2 separate regions of the Homo sapiens genome follow, and region 1 is linked to region 2. Evidence: fine-mapped expression QTL. A gene starts in region 2. The other region holds a variant in brackets. All regions are shown on one strand. Distances are from middle to middle.

The links. PIP is the estimated chance that this variant, and not a neighbour inherited with it, causes the effect.
Region 1: its variant is fine-mapped to the expression of PRPF38A in lymphoblastoid cells (GTEx, PIP 0.98).

What each region holds. Positions count from the first base shown.
Region 1 is chr1:53,164,625-53,176,800 of GRCh38, forward strand. No RefSeq gene overlaps it. Among named protein-coding and RNA genes, the nearest start is that of CPT2, 26 kb to the right of the region's middle. The variant A/C (reference allele first, on the strand shown) is at 3,926.
Region 2 is chr1:52,401,414-52,415,920 of GRCh38, forward strand. It overlaps PRPF38A (pre-mRNA processing factor 38A), which reads left to right and starts at 3,189. Exons shown (of 10, transcript NM_032864.4): 1 at 3,189-3,466; 2 at 4,267-4,426; 3 at 7,156-7,277; 4 at 9,702-9,787; 5 at 11,101-11,211; 6 at 12,466-12,578; 7 at 13,208-13,234; 8 at 13,349-13,446; 9 at 13,925-13,973. The coding sequence starts at 3,337. It overlaps ORC1 (origin recognition complex subunit 1), which reads right to left and starts at 3,010. Exons shown (of 17, transcript NM_004153.4): 1 at 2,833-3,010; 2 at 716-815; 3 at 1-76. The coding sequence starts at 810. It also overlaps the pseudogene LOC124904850. RefSeq lists an enhancer at 2,509-3,708.

The sequences.
Region 1 (12,176 bases), 760 kb after region 2:
GGGCCCCGCATTGAGTTGAGGGTGATGGGAGCCCCTGGTCTAAACCACAGCTATGTAGAGACTTATGGTTTGGATTGTGCATATAAAGTGAGTATATTAGTATATAGACCCTGCTGCATTTTTGTACATTGCTTTGGGGGCTGGTTCTGAGGCTCTTTTTGATCTGGAGACCCTAACATCCTTTCCCTCTCTTTTCTCTTTCAGTTGCCTACAGATCTGGAAGCCTTGCTGAAAAGACACCTTAATGGCCTAGCAGCTCTTTTAGGCAAGGAGCAATTCAGATGTTGAATGATGGAACACAAAAACCCACAGCAGACATGGTGGCTGATGCTTGTAATCCCAGCACTTTGCAAGGTTGAGGTAGGGGGATTGCTTGAGCTCAGAAGTTTAAGACCAGCCTAGGTAACACAGTGAGACCCCATCCCTACAAAAAATCAAAAAATTAGCTGGGCATGGTGGTGCACATCTGTAGTCCCAGCTTCCTGGAAGGCTGAGGCAGGAGGATCTCTTGAGCCCAGGAGGTCAAGCCTGTGGTGAGTTGTAATTGTGCCACTGCACTCCAACCTGGGTGACAGAGCAAGACCTTGTCTCAAAAAAATAAAATAAATTGGTGTTGCGGTTAATGGTCTTCATGTAGGTTTTTCCCGCTGTGGAGCAGGGCAGGACAATGAGTCTGGATGCTGGCTCCCCTGCATTTTAGTTCTGCAGTGAAGTTGTGGGGCCTGAGGGCTCAGGACACTGTGCTGCAATCATGCTGCATAGTCAGAGTGAAAAAAGACTGGGTTAGGGAGTCACAGAGTCACAGCATCCAGCCCCATTGGCCATTCAGCAATTCTGTGACCTTCCATCTCTGGTCAGTTTCCTCATCTGTAAAATGGGGATGCTAATGCCTGTCTCTTAGGGCCACTGGGAGAATGAAATGTTAGTTATTTTTCGGCTTTTCAGTTGAGTTATTGCATCAGCTACGTTCGTAGTTTACCCCCTTGGTTTATTAAGTAATAGTTGTAAAAGTTTATAACAGGTCACGAATTGGCGGCACCTTTGTATTGATTGGCACTCAAAGTGACTTACAAAAACTTGGCTTAATTGCCAACATTTAAAAACTAGGGATCTTACATAAAAATCTGGATTTGTGGCTTCATTGGAAACATCTGCATGACCACAACTGCTGGAGCTGAGAGTCAGCTGCTTGTTCCTGATCCCAAACCCCATGACTCCTGGACACCTTCTGCCTCCTACCCCTTATCTCCCTGGATTCCCTGAGTGGCTTGCTGCTGGAGGCTGTGAGTACCTAGTTTATAACCCCAGTTGATAAAGTGCTTTCACCTGCTTCATCTCATTAGACTTTTACCTATGAGGGAGGTGTTAGTATTGTTCCCTTTACAGGAGAAGAAACTAAAGCTGAGATGTTACAGGACCTACTCTGGGTTAGTAATAACAGCAACCGCAATAAATAGTAATTTGTACTGGCTGTTTACCATGTGCCAGGCATTATTCTAAGCACTTTACATGTTTAATTTAATTCTCTCAATCTTATCAGATATTGTCATTATTCCTATTTTATGAATAAGGAAATTGAGGTAGTGACAGGTCAAGTAGATTTCCCAAAGTCACACAGCCAGAAAGCTCAAAATAAACTGAAGACTTCTGGGTCCTAATCCACACTTGTTCCAGAGTCCTGCAGTGCAGGCTTTCCTTCCTTTCTCTCTTTCTCTTCTTTAAAATGGGTGAGTCTATGGGGCCCAGCTTCTGGTAAGAGTTTGTAAGTGTTGTTTGGTGGGAGGGGTGGGCTCGTGTTTTGTAGGATTTGTTCCCTGCTGCCTCCTCAGCACCTGCAACAATGCCTGGCATGTGGCAAGAGCACAAGAAAGAGTGAAAGCCAATGGCAACAGGGCAACATCGGCAGCTTTCAGGGCTCCAGTGTCTCTAATGATTGGCACACGGGCGAAGACCTACTACGTGGCATGCAGTGGGTGGGCTCCCAGCTCTTGAGCAGCTCAAGTCCAGGTAAGAATCACTGACAAATGAAATTCAAATATGGGGTGTGTGTGGACATGAGTCGCTTGCCAAAAAGTTACCTTTCCCCTTAAAAATAATCAATGACCCACTTGTGATATTTGCATTAAAGGCTAAACATTGAATAAGGGAAGTCAAGGCTGCAGTGAGCTGTGATTGTACCACTGCACTCTGGCCTGGGTGACAGAGCAAGACCCTGTCTCAAAAAGGACAAAAAAAGAAAGAAAGAAAAAGTCCGCCAAACAAAAACCACTCGGATTTATGATTCACCTCCTTTTTGCTTTAGGAAAACAAATTATTGGCCATAATTCTCAAAATGGAGTTGGAAACTGAGCTGCTAGCACTGGATGACCTCTATCAAGAAACTAGCTACATCTCAGGAACAAGATAGTTTCTGTTCAGTTCAGCCAACCCGAGCTCCTGCCTGGGCTGGGCGTTGGGCTGGGCACCGAGGCTGCACAGCTGCTGAGCTCTGGCCCTGCCTCCAGGAGCTCAGTCTGTGGGATATGTACTGCACAGAGACAGCTCGGGACTCTAGACATAGCTCGGAGGGTAAGGGAAGTCTTCCCGGGGGAGGTGTCAGCTGGGCTGAGTTTCGATGAACTAATGTTGTCCAGGTGAATAAGGGAGAGAATGGATAGAAAAAGCGCAAGGCAGTAGTGAGACTCATGAGAGATCTGGAAACTTCACAGCTTCTGTGGTTCTCCATGGACTTGCTGTTGTCTGAGTGTCCACATGAGTGAAGGTGGAAGAATGGGTGTGGGCTCTCTGTCCAGGCAGGTGGGGTCCCATCAGGGATAATCAGTATCTGCCCAGTAATGAAGATTGTTTTGACACATGCAGGTGGTGCTGCACTCTTCCTTCCAACCACTGCCCATTAGGGGACAGGCCGAGTCAGTTTGTGCCTATCTTGCCCTATCTCCTTCAATGAAGAAAGTGAATGCTGCAAGTAATACATGTTCATTGTCAAAAACTAAGAAAAATGTAAATACCCCATAGGCCAGGTGCGGTGGCTCACACCTGTAATCCCAGCACTGTGGAAGGCAAAGGCAGGTGGACTGCCTGAGGTCAGGAATTTGAGACCAGGCTGGCCAACACAGCAAAACCCCATTTCTACTAAAAATACAAAAAATTAGCTGGGCGTGGTGGTGCATGCCTGTAATCCCAGCTACTCAGGAGGCTGAGGCAGGAGAATCACTTGAACCCGGGAGGTGGAGGTTGTGGTGAGCTGAGATTGCACCATTGCACTCCAGCCTGGGCAACAAGAACAAAACTCCATCTCAGAAAAAAAAAAAGAAAATTCCCCGTAATCCAACCCTGAGAAATAACTTTTTAGTTTATATTCCCAAATATTTTTCTATGTCTAAATTTTTTGTTTTGCAGAAACATACATATTGGTTTTTTTCTTTTCTGTTGTGGTAAAATATACATTACAGAAAATTAGCAAAATCATGGAACCAACCCAAGTGTCTACCAGTGGTTGACTGGATAAAGAAAATATAGTACACATACACCGTGGAATACTATGCAGCATGAAAAGAATGAAATCATGTCCTTTGTAGCAACATGGATGGAACTGGAGGCCATTATCCTAAGTGAAGGGGTGGCCTGCCCCTCCACACCTGTGGGTATTTCTAGTCAGGTGGGATAAGAGACTTAGAAAAGAAAGAAGACACAGAGACAAAGTACAGAGAAACAACAGTGGGCCCAAGGGACCGGCGCTCAGCATACCAAGGACCTGCACCGGCACCGGTCTCTGAGTTCCCTCAGTTTTTATTGATTATTATCTTCATTATTTCAGTAAAAAGGAATGTAGTAGGAGGGCAGGGTGATAATAAGGAGAAAGTCAGCAACAAACACGTGAGCAATAGAATCTATGTCATCATTAAGTTCAAGGGAAGGTACTATG[A/C]TTGGACGTGCACGTAGGCCAGATTTATGTTTCTCTCCACCCAAACATCTCAGTGGAGTAAAGAATAACAAGGCAGCATTGCTGCAAACATGTCTCGCCTCCCACCATAGGGCGGTTTTTCTCTCATGTCAGAATTGAACAAATGTACAATCGGGTTTTATACCAAGACATTCAGTTCCCAGGGGCAGGCAGGAGACAGTGGCCTTCCTCTATCTCAACTGCAAGAGGCTTTCCTCTTTTATTAATTCATCTCAGCACAGACCCTTTACGGGTGTCGGGCTGGGGGACAGTCAGGTCTTTCTCATCCCATGAGGCCATATTTCAGACTATCACATGGGGAGAAACCTTGGACAATACCCCACTTTCAAGGGCAGAGGTCCCTGCGGCTTTCCGCAGTGCACTGTTCCCCTGGTTTATTGAGACTAGAGAACGGCGATGACTTTTACCAAGCATATTGCTTGTAAACATTTTGTTAACAAGGCACATCCTGCACAGCCCTAGATCCCTTAAACCTTGATTTCATACAACACGTGTTTTTGTGAGCTCCAGGTTGGGGCAAAGTGGCTGGGGCAAAGCTACAAATTAACATCTCAGCAAAGCAATTGTTTAAAATACAGGTCTTTTTCAAAATGGAGTCTCTTATGTCTTTCCTTTCTACATAGACACAGTAACAGTCTGATCTCTCTTTCTTTTCCCTACACCTAACTGACAAGCAGAAAGTCAAATATTCCATGTTCTCAGTTATACATGGGAGATAACAATGGGTACACATGGACATACAGGTGGAGAAAACAGACAGCAGGAACTACAAAGTGGGGGTGGGCTGACAAATTCCCTATTGTGTGCAATGTTCAATATTTTGGCAAAGCTCAATATGGTGGGGATTGGGATTCTAGTGTACCCATCACTAATAAAAATCAAAATAAAAAATCAAATCACACTACACACATGCAAATATGTGACATGATGGATATTTTAATTAGGTTGATTTAATTATTCTGTAATGTATACATATATCAAAAAATTCCATTGTACCCTGTAAATATATACAATCATTGCCAATTTAAAAAATTCATTGTGGGCCAGGCGTGGTGGCTCACACCTGTAATCCCAGCAGTTTGGGGGGCCGCAGCAGTTGAATCACCTGAGGTCAGGAGTTCGAAACCAGCCTGGCCAACATGGTGAAACCCCGTCTCTACTAAAAAATACAAAAATTAGTGGGGTGTTGTGGTGCATGCCTGTAATTCCAGCTACTCAGGAGGCTAAGGCAGGAGAATCACTTGAACCCGGGAGGCGGAGGTTGCAGTGAGCCGAGATCATGCCATTCATTGCACTCCAGCCTGGGCAAGAGAGCGAGACTTCGTCTCAAAGAAAAAAAATACATTGTGAAATTAAAAAAAAATACTTTCTCATAAAATTTACAATTTACAATTTTATCCATTTTTAAGCATGCAGTTCTGTGGCACTGAGTGCATTCAAATTGTTATGCAACGATCACCATCATCCATCTCCAGAACTTTATTTTTATTTTTTTATTTTTGTATTTTCTTTTGAGACAAAGTCTCACTTTGTTGCCCAGGCTGGAGTGCAATGGCACAATCTTGGCCCACTGCAACCTCCACCTCCCTGGTTCAAGCGATTGTCCTGCCTCAGCCTCCCAAGCAGCTGGGATTACAGGTGTGCACCACCACGGCTGGTTAATTTTTGTATTTTTAGTAGAGATGGGGTTTCACCATGTTGGCCAGGCTGGTTTCGAACTCCTGACCTCAAGTGATCCACCTACCTCAGCCTCCCAAAGTGCTGGGATTACAGGTGTGAGCCACCGTGCCCGGCCCAGAACTTTAAAAATATTCTCCAATGGAAACTCTGCATCTATTAAACAATAACTCCCCATTTTCCCTCCTCCCAGCCCCTGGCAACCATCATTCTACTTTCTCTGAATGCCACCACTCTACGTACTTCATATAAGTAGAATCATAAAATATTTGTCCTTATGTGGCTGACATATTTCACTTAGCACAATGTCCTCAACGTTCGCCCATGCGGTAGCATATATCAGGATTTCCTTCCTTTTAGGCTGCAGAGAATTATGATCGCGCCACTGCACCCCAGCTTGGGTGACAGAGTGAGAACCTGTCTCTTAATTAAAAAAAAAAAAAAAAAGAGTCCAGGCATGGTGGTTCACTTCTGTTAATTCTACCACTTCGGAAGGCCAAGGTAGGAGGATCCCTTGAGTCCAAGAGTTTGAGACCAGCCTGGGCAACATGCTGAAACCCCATCTCTACAAAGCCCACAAAAATTAGCTGGGTGTGGTGGCACACTTGTGGTCTCAGCTATTTAGGAGACTGAGGTGGGAGAATAACTTGAGCCTGGGAGGCTGAGGCTGCAGTGAGCCAAGATCACACCACTGCACTCTATCCTGGGTGACAGAATAAGACCTTGTCTAAAAAAACAAAAGAATTTCCTTCCTTTTTAAGTCTGAATAATATTCCACTGTATGTATAGATCACATTTTGCTTACCCATTCACCTGTCAATGGACATTTGGATTGTGTCTATGTTCTAGCTATTGTATATACTGCTTTTTAACTTAATCTATTATGAACATCTTTTCAGATGAATAATTAAATTTTCCCAATGCCTTTTTTAGTGGCTGCTTTATAGTACATTACCTGACTGTTCCACAATGTAGTTGACTATTCCTTGAGGGTTGGAAATTTAGTTTGTTTCTGATTTTTTGCTCTAATATACACGGCTGGAATAAATCCCCTACGAACAACATCTTTGCATGCCTGGCTGATTATGACTTTCAGACAAAAGAATGTGCACAGGTTTCGGCCTCCGGCACCCATTGCTGGGCCCTTGTTACAAGCAGCCTGTGCATCTGAGGAGGCCTAAGCCTGAGCTGCCGCACACATCCCCATCCCTGAAGACCAGAGAGCACCATGATGCCAGGGGTCCCTGCGCCTCCTGGAAGTGAAGAATGTTGCTGCAGCTCCAAGCTCGTAGGGTAAGTCTGTGGGAATAAATCCAGGAGGACCTTCAGGGAGATTCCAATGAACTCCTGGTTATTCTGATTCTTTGGAAAATGAAATTTTCTGGTTAATTGAACTTCTTGACTGGCTGAATCCAGTCTAAATGCCTTCAAATAGACCCCTACCTGGCACACCATCATGCTTCCCTTTTGTTTTGTCAGTTTGTTTGTTTTAAATAAGGAGTTTCTCTCTGTCATCCATGCTATAGTGTAGTGGCATGATCCTAGCTCACTGTGGCCTCCAACTCCTGGACTCAAGTGATCATCTTTCCTCAGCCTCCCAAATAGCTGGGACTGCAGGCTTGTGCCACCACACCCAGCTGATTTAAAAAAAAATTTGTAGAGATGGGGTCTTCTTCTGTTGCCTGGGCTTGACTGGATCGCCTGGCCTCAAGTGATCCTCCCACCTCAGCCTCCCAAAGCACTCCCAGCACCACGCCTGGTCCATAATGCATCTTAAAAATGCAGATGACATGTTATAATTTTGCAGATATTGTTGTGAAATGTCTTGAGTGCCCAGAACAGGGCGAGCCACACAAAAGATGCAGAAGTCGAACAATGCTGGTGGTGGGGCTACATGCAACCTGGGAGCTGCTGTTGAACTAAGTGCCCAGCAGGAGCTTGTCTTCTTATTATTTACTGATCATAAAATTGAGTACAGACTGCTCTCATCCTCCTTCTGTGGGGTTCCTTGATTCTCTTGGTTGTTTAGACTGTGGATAAAAGGGCTTTTGGTAGTTGCTGGGGAGAAAGGTCAGCAGCAGCAGTGATGAGAAAGCAGCATGCCCACAGGTGGAAGCCTCGGAAGGGGTTCCTGAGAGGCTGCTCCGCCTGTGAGGTGCGGGAAGCACAGGGTCCTCCAGCTCAGTTAACCATGCATAGTGGCAGGCACTGCTCCTAAAACACAGAGTAGTCAATCTTCCTAGAAAATGCAAAATGCTCTTCTGACTCCACTTTTTTTTTTTAAGTATTCAAAACATCCTTTTCAAGCCCTGTTTAGCTCTTTTTATAGCTGTGTTTGGACAGACTGAACAGATGAAATTTACTTAACACTTCCAGTGTGGGTCTTTGGTTGATCACTACAGAGCCTATGTTTTGAATAAAATTTTGAATTTGCACATCAGCAAGAATTCTGCCATGAGAATTTATTTTAACATAAAAGCCAAGACTGTTCTCCTTGCCTCCATCCCTCGGCTTTTCCTCCCCTCCTCCCTCTTTCCCTTGCTCCATCCACAATGGAATTCTCACCATTTTCCCAGAACACCATGCCCTTTTTTGTCTGTGTCTTTGCACGCTCTTCCCATTGCCTGGAGTGCCCTCTAGGTCCATCTAGTGACCCAAATAAGACTTTAAGCCTAAACACAAATGTCCCCTCTTTTCTGACGTCCTCATGGACACACCCCTGGTATAAAATCACTTCCTCCTCTGTGCACCGAATGGTGTCTCACCCATCCGTGACAGCACTTACCACACCGTGCATCTGCTCACCTGCTCACCATCTGTCTCCCCAGAAAGACTGCCAGCTCCTCAAGGGCAGGGACCATGTCTCCTTCACTCAGCACCTTTGGCTCAAGAACACTAAGATATTTGGACCCTTGAAGTCTCAGTTTCCTCATCTGTAAATTAGGAAAAACACAACATCACTGAAGGAGATAGGGGAGGACTAAAGGAGCTGTGCTGTGCTTGGTACACAGGAAATATTCAGTAAAAATTCACCATTTTCAGGGATTCGTTATTTTAGAAGTTTACCAAAATGCTCCCTCTCCTCTCCCCCTGCTTCCTCTCCCCTCCCCTCCCTCTCCTCTCCCCTCTCCTCCCCTCCCCTCCCTCTCCCCTCCCCTCCCTCTCCTCTCCTCCCCTCCCTCTCCTCCTCTCCCCTCCCTCTCCTCCTCTCCCCTCCCTCTCCTCCTCTCCCCTCCCTCTCCTCCTCTCCCCTCCCTCTCCTCTCCTCCTGCTTCCTCTCCCCTCCCCTCCCTGTCCTCTCCCCTCTCCTCCCCTCCCCTCCCTTCCCCTCTCCTCTCCTCTCCTCCTCTCTCATATACACACACTCACACACACTATCACTCACACACACTCACACACACTCTAACACACACTCACCTACAAGCACGCACGCACGCGCACGCGCGCGCGCGCACACACACACACACACACACACACACTTGAGATGGCTGACCTGGAGGCCACCGTTTGCCCCAGGGGTAGATGCCAGAAATGGGCCAGCTTGAAACAGATGGCAAATACTCAGCTCTGAAGGACAAGCTGCCTGGTCTAGGCCTACAGGTATAAGAAAGAAGATATTTCAAGGAGGAAATGAAAAGGCAGAACAAGTTCCCCGTCCCCTGTCATCATGCTCGGCTCTGAGCTGGAGACAGGTGGGAGGTTTTGGAGAAGGAGTAAGAGCTCCAGATGTGAGTGTGAAGGGACCTCTACCCTGCCTGGCTAGATAGCTTCAGGATCGCCTTCCACATTCCCTCTTCACCCTCTCCACTCGGCTCTCTGCCCCGGGAAGTTGAGCTATAAACACATCAATGGGCCTCTCTGACCAGTGCCTCTGGTTGGATTCAGATCATGGGGAACAGTAACAGGACAAAGAAGGCAGGAGGAAAGTGAGGGTGGGTATTTATTCCGGGGCTTCCTTCTGCCAAGGTCCTATGGCTCTGGTCATGGCGGCTGCGGGTGGTAACAGCACCTACGTTACTAGCTAGCTCAGGGATACTGCACTGGACATGGGTTTCCCCGCACCCTGCCCACACCTTCATAAATAATCTCTGTATTTAATTCTCTTCAAAACACACCATTTGAACAATACCGTCGGCTCCCTGCCCCTGCCCTTCCATCCCTGGCCAAGGAGACACAGGTTAATGTTCCCCTGGAACTTGAGGGGACCCAGGAGTGGAGAGGATTTGCTCCCTGCATACTCTCAGGAGTTTTCGTGAGTTGCTGCCTTACAGATGTGTCTGACTCTGGGAATGTGAGGAGAACGATAAATGGGGTGGCATGGCTCATGTGGGCAAAACAGGGCTGGAGATGGTGTGTTAGTCCGTTTTCACACTGCTATGAAGAAATACCTGAGACTGGTAATTTATAAAGGAAAAAGGTGGGGTTTTTTTTTTTTTTTTTTTTTTTTGGAGGCAGAGTCTCGCTCTATCCCCCAGGCTGGAGTGCAGTGGCACGATCTCGGCTCCACCTCCCAGGTTCAAGCAATTCTCCTGCCTAAGCCTCCTGAGTAGCTGGGATTACAGGTGCATGCCACCATGCCCGGCTAATTTTTGTATTTTTAGTAGTGACAGGGTTTCACCATGTTGGTCAGGCTGGTCTTGAATTCCTGTTCTCGCGTGATCGGCCTGCCTCAGCCTCCCAAAGTGCTGGGATTACAGGCGTGAGCCACAGCGCCCAGCCAGGAAAAAGCTTTAATTGACTCAGTTCTGCATTGCTGGGAAGGCCTCAGGAAACTTAACAATCATGGCAGAAGGCAAAGGAGAAGCAGGCACCTTCTTCACAGGGTGGCAGGAAGAAGTGCCAAGCAAGGGGGGAAAGCCCCTTATAAAACCATTAGATCTCGTGAGAAATCACTCACTATCACAAGAACAGCATGGGAGTAACCACCCCCACATCAGGAATTTTCCCTATAGTGACTCTGTTGGGGTATAGAGATATCAGAGAGAGAGAGAGAGAAAGCACGCTTGCAGATCAGCTGCAGATGAACTGACTGTCCGTGTGAGGGACATGGCTGAATTCTTAGAGTGCTGTCTGTGATGGTTAATTTTATATGTCAGCTTGGCTGGGCCATGGTGCCTAGATCTTTGGTTAAACATTCTAACATTTTTCTGGATGTTTCTGTCAAAGTGTTTTTTGGAAGACATTAACATTTAAATGGGTGGATTCTGAGTCAACCAGATTGCCTTCCATGACGTGGGCGAGTGTCATCTAATAAGCTGAAGAACAAAGACTGACCTCCCCTAAGCAAGAAGAATGATGCCAGCAGGCTGACTGTGGGCTCGATCTGCAGCTCTTCCCTGGGTCTCCAGCTGCTGGCCTGTCCTGCAGACTTTGGACTTGCACCTCCACAATCACATGAGCCAATTCCTTAAAATAGACCTTTCTTTTTCTAGGTATAGGTACACATCCTGTTGGCTCTGTTCCCCTGCCAAGATGGGAGCCAATCAATTCCAGCAGAATGTGTGGGGCCTCATTCGAATGAATGTTTGTGCCCTCTTGGCAGACATGGCGAATTATTCAAGAGCAGGAAGCCAGTTCAGGATGGAGCAAAGTGTTATCCTTGACTTCTTCCTCCAGCTTCCGTCCCCATCAATCTGTGTAGTGGCCAACCCTTCCCACTTCCCACATTTACTCTCTCTCTTACTGCTACTCCTTAATCCGAGCCATCCATGGAAATCCCCAGCCAATAGCATGGGACAGTTGACGGTCTAACTCTCAGCATTCATCCCTCTCGTTCCCAGCATTTGCTCTATGCATCAGGCATGCAAACCCTTCCCCACTACTTGTAGAGCCCATGCTCCTTTATACCTCTTGTATTTCATTCACCAAAAATCTCTAATAAGGGCTGACTGTGTACAACCCTGTGCTAAGGGCGGAACACGCAGTCCCAGGTTTCAAAGAGCTCAGAATCTAAGGGAAAGAGAGGCTTGGAAACGGATTAAGTGCAACCACGTCCTGGCCACAGAGGGGAGGAAAGAAGCCCTGGTGAAGGCTCTTTGCAGAGGGAGGGAACGTCTTTATTTTATGCATGTTCTTCCCTTTGCTACCTTGTGCCTCTTCACCAGGAAACATCTCATCCTGCAGCTGAATACCGTCTCCCTACTCAGTGGTATCTACTGCCACCTCCATGCTCTGTCCAGAGCTAGTTCATTGTTCCCTTCCCAGTGCTCCTTCATATTTTCTATTTACTACTTTCTTCCTTTATTACATCAAGTAATACTACCAAATACTGCTCCTCTAGCATTTGCCCTGTGCTGCGCATGTGCTCGCCCTGCAACCACCTTTGGGGCAGGTACTATCGTATCATATCGTATCATCATTGGCTCAGGGTATAAGTATCTTGCTTAGTAACTCATGGCTCGTGAAATTAGTCATTTCATAATCTCAAGTTGCTGAGCACTTGTCTGGCGCAGAGTAGAGAGCAAATATTTGTCTAATGGAAGTGTGTTTGTGAAAATGCTGGGCTGTGTAAACTAAACAGAACGGAATAAAATCA
Region 2 (14,507 bases):
CCCTTCAATCAACACAAACTGTCCAATCTGGATGTGAATCTCGGTGGAACAACCTTCTGTTTTCACACACATTTCTCTAGGAAGTAACAGAGAAGCACATTAGGAAATAACTTAAAGTGGGTCAAGCTCTTCAGATCCCCTGGGCACAAAGGAGAGGGCTCTCCAATCCTGATTTCTTTCTGCTGACCAACTCTCCTACTGGGAAACCAATTCGCCCAGTTATATTTAAGAATAGGCAAAATGGGTTGAATGAATTGTTTTAGCTGAGTAATGAATCCAAAGGTCTTATTAGGAACCCTAATTCCTCTCAGTTATTGACAAAGAACAACAAATGCTTCCCACAACAAATGTTTCCCAAGGCTGTCAAGCTGCCCAGTAACAATGTCAAATTGTCAGAGATCTCCAGGGCTGGGAAAGACATAGTAAAAACATCTATCATCTCGTTTTCATCAAAAGTTATATAGAACTCACCTTAAATAGACATGACATTATCCTACATACAAAATTTTATGAGCCTGCCATAATTTTGCTCCATCACTAACTGCTATATTTATCCCACCATCTTCTTGCATCAAACAAAACCCTCCTTACAATCAGTTCTAATCTCCTGTTCATTCATGGTCAATCTGTAGTAATTAGAACAGGCTAGATACAAGTTGACTGTTTAGCTTGAGAAGCTGTATTTCCAGGACAACCAAAGGACCCCATCACTCACCTATAGGTTTGGTAGTGCAGTTTTCGATCCAACAAGGGCCTGCCAACCCATGAATAAGTTTTTCTGGTCTTCAGCCTTGTGGGGTAGTGTGCCATGGCTTCTGTGGAAGAGTCCAAACTCTGAGTTACCATGATAAATATTTGGTATTTATCTGATGGATTCTAAGACATAGTCAGTCCCTCCCTTCAAATGAGATCAGACTTATTTTCTGCCCCTGCTACACTCCCATACATTTTAGACTAAGAAAACATTTTATTTGAAGTCATGGTCTACGAAGATTACACACAGGCAATTTAGTATCATCTGTGTCCATCTTGTACTATGCCGTATCTCTTTCCATCCAGGAAAACAGAAAGGTCAATTCCTAAGAAATGAAACTGTAACATTTAGAAATACTAGGAATAAGGCAGAACAATAGGTGTAAAACATCTAACAAAGTGAAATTAAAAGACAGTGATACAGGGGTTGTAAATGTCTTCATGACGCTTATAAAATGCACACAAGGATAAAACAGAAATACAAAGGCTGGGCGCAGTGGCTCACGCCTGTAATCCCAGCATTTTGAGAGGCTGAGGTGGGTGGATCACCTGAGGTCAGGAGTTCGGGACCAGCCTGGCCAACATGGTGAAACCCCGTCTCTACTAAAAATACAAAAATCAGGTGGGCATGGTGGCAGGCAAATCACTTGAACCCGGGAGGTGGAGGCTGCAGTGAGCCGAGATCGCAACACTGCACTCTAGTCTGGGTGACAGAGCAGAACTCTGTCTCAAAATAAAAAAAAGAAAAGTAGATGTTATTATCACTTCAAGGTGATAACTTATCCTATCTTATACAGGATGGCACAGCCTTAACTCAAACCCGGAAAAGCCAGACTGCAATTACTGTGCTCTTAACTACTTCACCTTACAACACACTGTGTGAAACTGGATAATGTTAATATGTAACTGAGAGCTTGCTTTTGGTGTACTTATTACAATAAATCAGGCTTCCCAGCCACTGACTGAACATTGTGGATTGGGCCTCAATTTGCTTACCCACAAAATGGAGAAAATAGAATCTTCCGTTTATTCAACCAATATTTATTAAGTACCCATCGTGTGCCAGGCACTATTTTAGGATAATGGAAGATTAAGTGAAAAAATGCAAAATGGTAAATCCACTTTCCCACTACCTTAATCCCTTGCATTTATTTGTAAGGTACAGTGGTTTTATTTATTAAGTATCATTTGATGAATACTATGGAACTAACATAATTCAAGCAAAATTTTGCATTCAATTTCGGCAGATTCACAAACCTCCTAAAGTCCACATATTGCCCTCCATTAAAGTTAAAAACTGTTGCAAAGGGACTTAAACCATTCTGTCATATTGGAAACTCCTTTGGCATTTCCAGCCCACCTAACACAGCAGAGACGAGGGTACTATTATTCATGTGTTACAGACAACTAGAATCGTATATAATCATTGCAGTTTCACAAATAGATCAGGATAAGAATGCCTTTTCCAACTGTCACAGCAGAAGACTCTTCAATTCCGGGGTTAGAAAAGAGAAGTAGGAAGGGGGCCACCAGACTTCTCTTCTGAAAAGAAGGTGAATGACAGACAGCCCAGCAGTTAGGAGCTCATCTGAAAAAAAGATCTGGGTAGGAGCCCAGACTGCTTAGTCACGAAAAGCGACCTAAGACACGTCCCTCCCTGGGCGCAATTTACGTCCGTAAAATGGGGTAATAACCTCTGCTCCGCCTTCCCTGTAGTGGTTCCTACACTATAGCTCAAAGAACGAAACAAGTAGAGTGCTTTACAAATGCAGATGGAGGGAAAGTCATCACTGAGCATCAGGGTGCGGAGGGCAGGAATGCTCCTGCTTCTAGGCTGTTGGCTTCCGCCTTCCCCCCTGCAAACTCAGTTCCCTGCAGCGCGGGAAGCCTTTTAGGAATCGGAGTGTGGAACAGAGGAACGCTCTTAACAGTTCAGAACAGTGCCTGGCACTGAACAGGCGCTTGGTACATGTCAGCTAAAAGAATCAATGACTGAGTCTACAGAGAACGTCCTCAGTTTCAGAGGTTCCGATGCGCCCTCCCCCGAGTCCCTCGCAGCCCGCTGGACGCCACACTCACCCGGCTCCAAAGCTTCCTCCGGCTAGCCGCAAGCCCTCCGTTTCCTACCGCCTCCACTTCGAGAGCTCCGGGGGATGCGGCACCTCTAACCTGCACCAGCAGGGCTCCTTCTACAACTACGGGCCGAAAGCCAGGACCAAAGCGTGTGTCTCACTAGAAATGAAAAGAAGGTGGAAGGAGAAAAGAAAACTTCGCGCCAATCGGCGTGGCCCCGCCCCCAGACCGTCCCTTCGTTGCGACACCAACTAGCTCGCCCCGCCCACTCCGTACACCTAAGAGGGGCGCATGACGTACATCCGCTAACATGCAGCCGCCATCATTGATTCGATAGGCGACGCGGGGAGCGGAAGCCCTTTACACTACGGTGTTTCCGGCTTCAAGATGGTCGCCTAAGCTGTTTAGTGAAACTTCTTCCACCTTTCTCCATTCCTCTAGGTGCTTTTTCTGAACCTGGATGTGAGGCATTAAAGGATCCGACGGAAATAGAATTGAAGGCATTCTAAAATGGCTAACCGTACAGTGAAGGATGCGCACAGCATCCATGGCACCAACCCTCAATATCTGGTGGAGAAGATCATTCGAACGCGAATCTATGAGTCCAAGTACTGGAAAGAGGAGTGCTTTGGACTTACAGGTAAGTGGAAGCGCGCGGAGCGCCTCTCAGCCCCCTTGTGGCCCATTTCTCCTGACCGAGCGCGGGTAGGACTAGCGACTGGCCTCTGGGGGTGGTACTGGAACGGAGTATGTCGATCATTCAGAAAAATTTTGAGTGCCTGCTAAGTGCCTCGTCTTGTGTTGAGTATTAGAGGCACAGATGAATCTGGTAAGGTCATATTCTGAAGGCTGTCTCAGTTGGGTGTTGTGAGTTATTCCGTATTTAATGATAGCAGGCTGGGTTGCAACAGTGTTAAGCTCAGGGATCCGGATATAACACTTTGACACAATCTGTTGAAGGTCTTTAAGGACCTAACGTTAATATGCCTGAAACCAAATTCATGATCTTACTATTCTTAGATCTGGGCCGGTTCCAGTATTTATAAATATCAGTGCTTCAGAGAAGTCTTCCAGGTAATCTTCCGATTTGAATTGTGGCTTTAAATCCATGTCCTGTGACAATCTGTGGACCTTGAGCAAGTCACTTTACCTTTCTTAGCCCTCATTTTCCTTACCTGGAAATAAGAACATTGCTAGAACTTTCTTCATGACTTGTTAAAAAAGGTTAAGTGAGATAATATGAAAAGCTTAGCAGGGTACCTATTTTATTATCCATTCTCAATGTATATTAGCTGTTGTCGTTACTGTTATTAATACACATTCGTTCTCCTAATATTACACTGTTGATGTATATTTAGGAGAACCAAAGCTTGAACTAACTCCACTCCAACTAGGAAGAGCTTAGCCCTAATATGTTACTGTATTGTTTTTGTTTTTTAGCTGAACTTGTAGTCGATAAAGCCATGGAGTTAAGGTTTGTGGGTGGCGTCTATGGTGGCAACATAAAACCAACACCCTTTCTGTGTTTAACCTTGAAGATGCTTCAAATTCAACCCGAGAAGGATATCATTGTAGAGTTTATCAAAAATGAAGATTTCAAGTGAGTGCAATGTTCACTAGCTAATATAAGAGGTTTAATTTTGGCGGTTTAGAATTGGGCTTTGGTTAAGAGGGGTGTACACAATGTATCTCATTTCTAGAGAGTTCCACTCCAGATTTTTGCTTTTGAGCCCTTGAGTTTGTATTTTTTGTTTGTTTTTTGTTTTGGAAACAGAGTCTCTCTGTGTTGCCCAGGCTGGAGTGCAGTGGTGCGATCTCGGCCCACTGCAACCCCCATTTCCTGGGTTCAAGTGATTCTCCTGTCTCAGCCTCCCGAGTAGCTGGGATTACAGGCATGTGCCATCACGCCTGGCTAATTTTTGTATTTTTAGTAGAGATGGGGTTTCACCATGTTGGCCAGGCTGGTCTCGAACTCCAGACTTCAGGTAATCCCCTCCCCCCCCGGGCCTCCCAGAGTGCTGGGATTACAGGCATGAGCCACCACACCCTGCCAAGTTTGTATTTTATCTGTTCTGATTGTATTAATCTTCTACTTTACTTTCTCAGTTTTGGTAATTTTTCCCTGAAAAAGGATTTCACAGATTCACTAAATACATATTAAGCAAAAGTGAGTGCCTGATATGTTGGTAGGCACTGGACGCTCAGGGGTGAAAATCAAACAACAAAAGGTGGTGGTTAAGAGGTGTAAGATCTGGGTTCACATCCAGATTCTGTTGCCCATTAACTATGACATTGGAGAGGTTACTTAATTTTCTAAACTTTGCTTATCTGTAAAATGGTGACTATAATATAAGAGTGAAAGAACGTAATGCATGCAGATCTCTGAACACAGCACTTGCTGCATGGTAAACACCTAGAAAATGTCAGCTTATTACCGTATTACCGATTCTCGAGGAAATCACAAACAAGTATAGGAGACAGACATAATAGCTTCTTATGTGCCATGCTGTAAGGGCTTTGCATATAATAATTCATTTCACTTTCACAACAACCTTCTAAACTTTTAATCCCTATTCTACAGGAGAGGAAACTGAGGCACAGAGATTAATTAATTTTGCCCAAGTTCAAACAGCTAGTAAGTGGCAAATCTGGCTTCAGAGTTCATATTCTTTGCTACAGTATTCTGCTTCTCGTACAAAGAAACTATGACTTTCAAAAGCCTCCTAGTTACCCAAGAGGAAATTTAAGTAGTTAGATATAGGAAAAAGGGAAGAGGAACAACTCTTTTTTTTGTTTGAGACAGAGTCTCGCTCTGTTGCCCAGGCTGGAGTGCAGTGGCGCAGTCTCGGCTCACTGCAAGCTCGGCCTCCTGGGTTCATGCCATTCTCCTGCCTCAGCCTCCCAAGTAGCTGGGACTACAGGCGCCCACCACTACACCCGGCTAATTTTTTGTATTTTTACTAGAGACGGCATTTCACCGCGTTAGCCAGGATGGTCCCGATCTCCTGACCCGGTGACCCACCTGCCTCGCCTCCCAAAGTGCTGGGATTAGAGGCGTGAGCCACCGCCCCTGGCTGGAACGACTCTAATAAAGCATTAACAGCTAGAAAATACCTAACTTTTGTTAGGCACTTACTGTGTGCTCTGTGCTATACTTAGCACTTTCAATGCATTTCTTGTTTATATACCAAGCCATAAATTAGGTAGCATTATCTCCGTTTTACAAGGATTGAGAAAACACATGATTTGACCAGTAGTGTCACAGACTTAGTAAATTACGGAGTCAGAATTTGAACCCAGATGACTTACTTTTTTCCAAAACCAGCAGTCATGTTTATGTGTACTTGTTCTTGTATTGTTATTAAATATATCTTCTTTCTGTTTTAAAATTCAATATATGGCCAGGTGTGGTGGCTCACACCTGTAATCCCAGCACTTTGGGAGGCCAAGGCAGGTGGATTGCTTGAGGTCAGGAGTTCAAGACCAGCCTGGCCAACATGGGGAAACCCCGTCTCTACTAAAAATACAAAAATATGCCAGGCATGGTTGCTAACACCTGTAATCCCAGCACTTTGGGAGGCCAAGGCAGGCAGATCACCTGAGGTCAGGAGTTTGAGACTAGCCTGGCCAACATGGCAAAACCGGTCCCTACTAAAAATACAAAAATTAGGCTGGGTGTGTTGGCACATGCCTATAATCCCAGCTACTTGGGAGGCTGAGGCAGGAGAATCGCTTGAACCCAGGAGGTGGAGGCTGCAGTGAATTGAGATCGTGCCACTGCACTCCAGCCTGGGCAACAGAGCAAGATTCTGTCTCAAGAAATAAATAAATACATAAATAAAAATACAAAAATTAGCTGGGCATGGTGGCGGGCGCCTGTAATCCTCGCTACATGGAGGCTGAGGCATGAGAATTGCTTGATCCCAGGAGGCGGAGGTTGCAGTGAGCCAAGATCGTGCCACTGCACTGCAGCCTGGGCAACAGAGCAAGACTCTGCCTTAAAAAATAAAATAAAATTCAGTATTTCTTTTGATTCTTAGAGTAATCCTGTGAGGTAAATAGGTTTTATTCTAGTTTTACTGATGATATATTTGAAAGTTGATCAATATGTATGATGTTCCCACAGCCATAAATGGTAGCATGGGAACTTGAACTCAGGTCTCCATATTTTAGCTGTCTTTCTTCTGCTGCATTCTACCTCCACAATTGCAGCTTTCTTACCTGCCAAAGAGAAGAACATGTTTATCCACTACTGTCATGAGAACAGCTAGTTGTAAAACTCAGGAACTTCTAGGATGGCCTGTTGTTTCACTGTCATCTGTCTCTCAGGTATGTCCGCATGCTGGGGGCACTTTACATGAGGCTGACAGGCACTGCAATTGATTGCTACAAGTACTTGGAACCTTTGTACAATGACTATCGAAAAATCAAGAGCCAGAACCGAAATGGGGGTAAGTATGGTGCTAAGTCTCCTGATTGTCATTTTTAAGCCAGTTTTTATTTTACCAGTACTTCTACCTTTGCATTGTCATAGACAGTGTGAATGCTCCTTTTCATCTACATTGTTACTGTCTCTATGCAGGTTTTCCCTTGTCCCTCATGGGAGTTTTCAGTCTGACTACTAGCTTCGTGTTGGCCTTACCCAGCCTGCCTCTGTCTGTCTCCCTTTCCAAGTGCATCTTATGTTAATCCCTGCCTTGCATCATATGCCCCCTTTACATGTGCTCCATCCCAAAAGATCTAGCTGCAGAATGGCTTCTCCATAAAAACCTTCCCCAGCCCTCTCAGACAAAATTAGTTTTCCATATTTTACATCTTCACAGTTCTTTCTACTGGCCTCTCCTCTAACACTGTAATTCACACTGCAGCATATAAGACTACTCATTTTTATACAGGAATCCCACTGAAAAATAAGTATATCCAAGAGAGGCAGCTCCATACCTTCTACAAGGAGATTACTTAATGTGCTAAGGAGGGATTCCAGGTAATGCAGTCAAAACCTTTTCTCACTTGGTGTCATAACAGAAGATAGGAACATTTACCTTTCCCCCTACATGTATCATTAAACAGTAGAAGGTTAAGAATTTGGGGCCAAGCACGGTGTCTCACACCTCTAATCCCAGCACTTTAGGAGGCCAACATGGGCAGATCACTTGAGGTCAGGAGTTTGAGACCAGCCTCGTCAGTATGGTGAAACCCTATATCTACTAAAACTACAGTAATTAGCAGGGTGTGGAGGTGCACACCTGTAATCCCAGCTACTCAGGAGGCTGAGGCAGGAGAATCCCTTGAACCAGGAGGCGGAGATTGTAGTGAGCCGAGATCACGCCGCTGTATTCCAGCCTGGGCGACAGAGCAAGACTCCATCTTAAAAAAATAGAATTTGGTATTATACTTTAAACTTATTGATTCATTCATTGAATAAATACATATTAAGTGCCATTGACATGTCACATACTGTGCTATGTGGTGTAAATACCATGGTGAACAAGATGGACATGGTCATGGCCATGATGGAGTTATTTATTTATTATTTTATTACGTAAAACTAAGAATTTCTGAACCTATTGACATTTTGGGTCATATAACTTTTGTGTGAGGATTGGCTTGTGCATCATAGAATGAGTAGCAGTATCTCTAGCCTCTACCCACTAGATGGAAGTAACACCTCCTTCTAAGTAGGGGGATGGGCATGTGCAAAATTGCCCATGGTTGAGAACCCCAGAAGTAAGGTAATGTTTACCATGGAAGTTCTCAAAAGCTATATATGTATATGTATGTATGTATATATATGTATTTGTATATGTGTATATACACACACATATATATACATTTTATAATTATATTTACATACAAATATATAAATATACATAATCATATATAATTTATATATAACATAATTTATATATAACATAATTTATATATAATATAAATTGCCTGTAATCCCAGCTACCCAGGAGGCTGAGGCAGCAGAATTGCTTGAACCCGGGAGGCGGAGGTTGCAGTGAGCCAAGATTGCACCACTGCACTCCAGCCTGGGCAAAAGTGAGACTCCGTCTCAAAAAAAAATTTTTTTTCTAACTCTAGCCAAAAACAATATTTCCTTATTAAAAACACCTCAGCTCTGCCATATACTAGTAGTATAATCTTACGCAAATTACTTAAATTTAGTTTTCTCCTATGTAAAGTGAGGTTAATGATACTTTTATATATATATAGATGTATATATATATATACACACACACACACATATATATAGACATATAATTTTTTTTTTTTTGAGATGGAGTCTCACTCTGTTGCCCAGGCTGGAGTGCAGTGGTGTGGTCTCAGGTCACTGCAACCTCTGCCTCCCAGGTTCAAATAATTCTCCTGCCTCAGCCTCTTGAGTAGCTGGGATTACATGTGCCCACCACCATGCCCAGCTAATTTTTGTGTTTTTAGTAGAGATGGGGTTTCGCCATGTTGGCCAGGCCTGTCTTGAACTCCTAACCTCAAGTGATCTGCCTGCCTTGGCCTCCCAAAGTGCTGGGATTACAGGCGTGAGCCACCACTCCTAGCCAGTTCTCAAAAGCTATCACTCCATGTGCCATATAAGATACATGTTCTAAATTCAGAAACATTGAAGGTTCAGATGAGAAATTATATTTAAGTTATATGATCTCTTCAAGATCATCCCTACATAATTCAGGACTGTTTGTGCTTGTTTTTGTGTTTGTCTCCTGCTAATTGGGACATCTTCATTCATCCCTTAATCTCTTCTAAAGAGGCCTAGCACATAGATGTCCTGATATGAAGTCTTAACACTTCTTTTACTTTTTGGCATCTAAATCTTTTATTTCCAGGTTGTTTGCTCTAATGACTTTTTCTTGCAGAGTTTGAATTGATGCATGTTGATGAGTTTATTGATGAACTATTGCACAGTGAGAGAGTCTGTGATATCATTCTGCCCCGACTACAGGTAAGAAATAAAAGTCTGTTACCAGAGTCACCCTTCTCTTCCTAGACGGGCAGACAGACAAACACATACACACAGCTTAAACACTGAAGCCTGTGGATCTTATGGGTCCTCTTAATGAATAGTCTTCCTGTCTGGGAGTCCCAAGATAGTGGATTGGGAGTGAGAGGAAAATAGATAAAATATTTGAAGGGTAGGGCTTTAAAAGTGAATGGTTTAAAACAAGGAAACTTTGTTTTTCTCCATCCTTTTGTAGTTCAGGTGCATGTGTGAGTTGTGCCTCCCTCAAACCTTGTTACAAAGTCAGCACATTACCTGTCTATCATGAAAAAAGAAATTTATTCAGGATGTTACATCAAGGGTATTGTAGCTAGAGTAGGTAGGGAGTTTTTAACTTCATGAACGTTTTTTTTAAACTAATCTTCATGTAAAAAGCCAGGACATAAAACAGATAAAAATAGGGCCAGGAGTGGGAGACTGAGCCATTAATTCCTTAAACTTGCCTTCACCATCCTGCTTCCCTTTCCTAGTGATAAACGATTATCCATGAGGCATCTTTTCAGGAAATGAGTGTGATACAGCTCTCCTGTTCCATGTTGGCACTGTAGGGCATGTAGTGGAAAGAATGAGATTATAAATTTGAAAACCTACTTTGAGGGCCCAATTCTTATAGCAAGACAATGTCTTGCTGTGTTGCCCAGGCTGTTCTTAAACTCCTGGGCTCAAGGGATCTTCCTACCTCAGTCTCCCAAGGAGCTGGGACCACGGGTACATGCCACTACATTTAGCCATTTGGCATTTTTGAAATCAGCTTTGCCTCTCTGATCCTTAGCCACTCAAATAAACATTGCTAAGCCATATCCCAGATTAAAATGGAACCAGTTCAAAATGCATGAATATCAACAGCTCCCGAGATCCTGGGTCTACTGGAGATTTGGTACTACTCTAGGGCTAGGCCTCTTCTAGTGGAACTACCAGCCATGAACTTATTAGCCCTTGGATTTTCTCTGTGTGTGAAGCCCTTACTTTTGGTTCTAGGCTGTACCTATACTGATTGATATTCCCATGACTTTAGAGTATAAGGTACAGGGAATAGAGTCAATAGAAAATGAAGATGTTCTCTTCAGGTTTGTATTTATGTTTATAGGAGAACTTTATAGATTTCAGGTCTATTAAACTTGTTAGGAAAATCTTGAACTGTCTTTGAAATGAAATTGCCTCAGCTGTTGCTCCTTGGAACCCTGAAGCCCAGTGTTGAGGTTTCAAGAAATAGGGGAAATGGCAACAACCCCTAACTCTCATCATTTTCTCTGTAGAAACGCTATGTATTAGAGGAAGCTGAGCAACTGGAGCCTCGAGTTAGTGCTCTGGAAGAGGACATGGATGATGTGGAGTCCAGTGAAGAGGAAGAAGAGGAGGATGAGAAGGTCTGGCACCTGAGACTTTTATGGTTGTAGGGGAGGGAGTAATAGAAAATGGGAATGGTTTTTTGTTTTTAGACTTTAATTTTTAACTCTATTGGCCGGGCGTGGTCGCTCAAGCCTGTAATCATAGCACTTTGGGAGGCCAAGGCGAGTGGATGACCAGCGGTCAGGAGTTCAAGACCAGCCTGGCCAACGTGGTGGTGAAACCTCGTCTCTACTAAAAATACAAAAATTAGCCAGCGTTGTGGTGGGTGCCTGTAATCCTAGCTACCCAGGAGGCTGAGGCAGCAGAATTGCTTGAACCCGGGAGGCAGAGGTTGCAGTGAGCCAAGATCGCAACACTGCACTCCAGCTTGGGCAAAAGTGAGACTCCGTCTCAAAAAAAATTTTTTTTCTAACTCTAGCCAAAAACAATATTTCCTTATTAAAAGCACCTCAGCTCTGCCATATACTAGTAGTATAATCTTACGCAAATTACTTAAATTTAGTTTTCTCCTATGTAAAGTGAGGTTAATGATACTTTTTTCCCCAAGACTGTTAAAAGTATTAAATAAGATTATAAACTTAAAGCCCTTAGCAGAGTATTGGCACATTATAATTGCCTAATAAATGGTGGCAGCTATTAAATACTTGGAAAGAAAGAACACTTTCATAATTGCACCTATCCTAAGGAATAAACCTTGTTTAGGAGGGGGAAAATGTCAACCGCATAGTCATGTTCTTTCAGTACTAGTTACGGTGCTGAAAAGTTGAAAACAACCAAGCTGCCCAGTTGTTCCAGGAAGCAAACTTTTTTTTTTTTTGAGATAGGGTCTTGCTCTGTTGCCCAGGCTGAGGTGCAGTGGCTCACTGCATTCTCGGCCTCCCAGGCTCAAGCAGTCTTCCCATCTCAGCCTCCCAAGTAGCTGGAACTACAGGCACGTGCCAGCATACCTGGCTAATTTGTGTATTTTTTTTGTAGAGATGGGATTTCACCATGTTGCCCAGGCTGCAGATAAACTAAACATACACACATACACACACACAGGTCTGTTTCTGTTCCCTCTCCTATGAGTCATTTTGGCTGTCTTATATAGCTCATAATAAGTTTTGTTAGTTAATAGGGTAAGTGCTTCCCTCTTTGTAGTCAGGTTACTGTGCTTTAAAGTCACATGGAGATGGACTTTGGGACAAGATGGGGCGTGAAGTATAATTAGTGTTCCTAGATGGCTCTTTATAAGCCTGTGCCTTTCAATGACCCAATCATCTTGTTTCCAGTTGGAAAGAGTGCCATCACCTGATCACCGCCGGAGAAGCTACCGAGACTTGGACAAGCCCCGTCGCTCTCCCACACTGCGCTACAGGAGGAGTAGGAGCCGGTCTCCCAGAAGGTAAAGCCTAGTCATTGGCCTTTTCCCAGAAGATTTTGAGCACTGTAGCCTAGAAGTTTGGATTTTAGAGAAGGAAAAATGCACGTCTATGGAGAATGTTTGCCCAATATATTAGTTATCTGTTGCTGCAAAACAACCACCTATAAAACCTCATTGGCAGACAACAATAACCATTTGTTCCTTTCACAAGTCTGCAGTCAATGATTTAAGCAGAGCTTGGATAGGCAGTTTTTAAAGTACCTGTTCTGTTGTCGGCTGTCTACTGGCTGGTATGGAATTGCCTTAGCTTGGATGACGGGGGAAATTTCTCTTCTCTGTGTCATCCTCTAGCAGGCTAAGTTGGGCATATTCTCATGGTAGTGGCAGAACTCAAGAGCAAACAAACCCGGTCATGCAAATGTTTTTCCAGTATCTGCTTTTATCACATTTGCAAATATCTCATTAGCCAAAGCGAGTCATGTCACCAGTCCTAAAGTTAGAATGGGAGGGTGCTAGAGTTACGTGACAAAAGACATGGATACAGAGGTGGGTGATACAGAGAAGCGTGAAGGATAAGATTGGGGCCGTTTTTGCAATCTACCACATCCAGTGCGCCAACCTAGGCTTTCTTCTTCCTCTCCTCTTTATAGGCGGAGTCGATCTCCCAAAAGGAGAAGGTAGGCCTTCAGTCATTTGTGATGAAGGATAGGGCTTTGGGGAGGGGGTGGTGGTATTGGTGTTATATGTATATTGCTAACCAGATCTGGTAGTCTGACCAGTCTTTTCTACAGCCCCTCCCCTCGCCGAGAAAGGCATCGGAGCAAGAGTCCAAGACGTCACCGCAGCAGGTCCCGAGATCGGCGGCACAGATCCCGTTCCAAGTCCCCAGGTAAAGCTTGTGGGCCTTTTGCCACAGGTTGTCTTAACAAAGAAATGTAAAAGGAGTAGTTAGCCTCCTGCAGTACAGGAGTGCCTGACTGTACTGCCTAACAGAAAAGCAAATGGACATAGAATTTGAAAATTAAGGTTCACAGCTTGACTGTCACTTATAAGCTTTGCTGATAAGGTTTGCTTTAGTTTTTTCATCTAAAATTGGAGGAATAAGATCTAACATAATAGTGAAAACCCAATATGATGTTTGTGAAATTAGTCATAAAGCCCTTGAATGTATATGTATTTGAACTGGTTTCATTACTACTTTCTTTGCTCCCTCTTCCTCCACTAATTCAGAGTTGCTTCCACTAAGAGGTGTCCCCTGCATAGGCCAAAAGAATATTAAGCCAATGGCAGGTATTAGGGGAGGTGAGAATGACAGTTTAATAAGAGTAGAAGGGTAGGATCTTATGCAATGGCCTTTTCTTCCCCAGGTCATCACCGTAGTCACAGACACAGGAGCCACTCAAAGTCTCCCGAAAGGTAATGAATTGACCTCTATTTTAACTTTACAGAAATAGTCCAAATTACAACTAACTGGACCTGAAATTTTCTTGTTTTGTTGGGGGATGTTAGGAATTCTCCTGCATTACAAGACAAAATTGGTCTATTGCTTTGAGAATTACTGGGGTTAGATAACTTTTTCTTTTTTCTCTTTTTTGAGAACTGAGTTTCGTGCTTGTCTCCCAAGCTGGAGTGCAGTGGCGTGAACCTGGCTCACTGCAGCCTCTGCCTCCCGGGTTCAAGCTGATACCTGTTTTGCTTTACAGGATTGCAGCTTTGGACAATGGATGAGCTTTGGTCTCAGAAAACATGGGGTTTAGTCCCAAGTTTTAAAACTTAACAGTTGAGTGACCTTGGACAAGTCACTTTCATTTGATAAGATTTCATTAGAAACCCCCATGTGCCATATACCGTTGGGTGCACTCTTTTTTTTTTTTTTTTTTTTTTTTTTTTGAGACGGAGTCTCGCTCTGTCTCCCAGGCTGGAGTGCAGTGGCGCAATCTCGGCTCACTG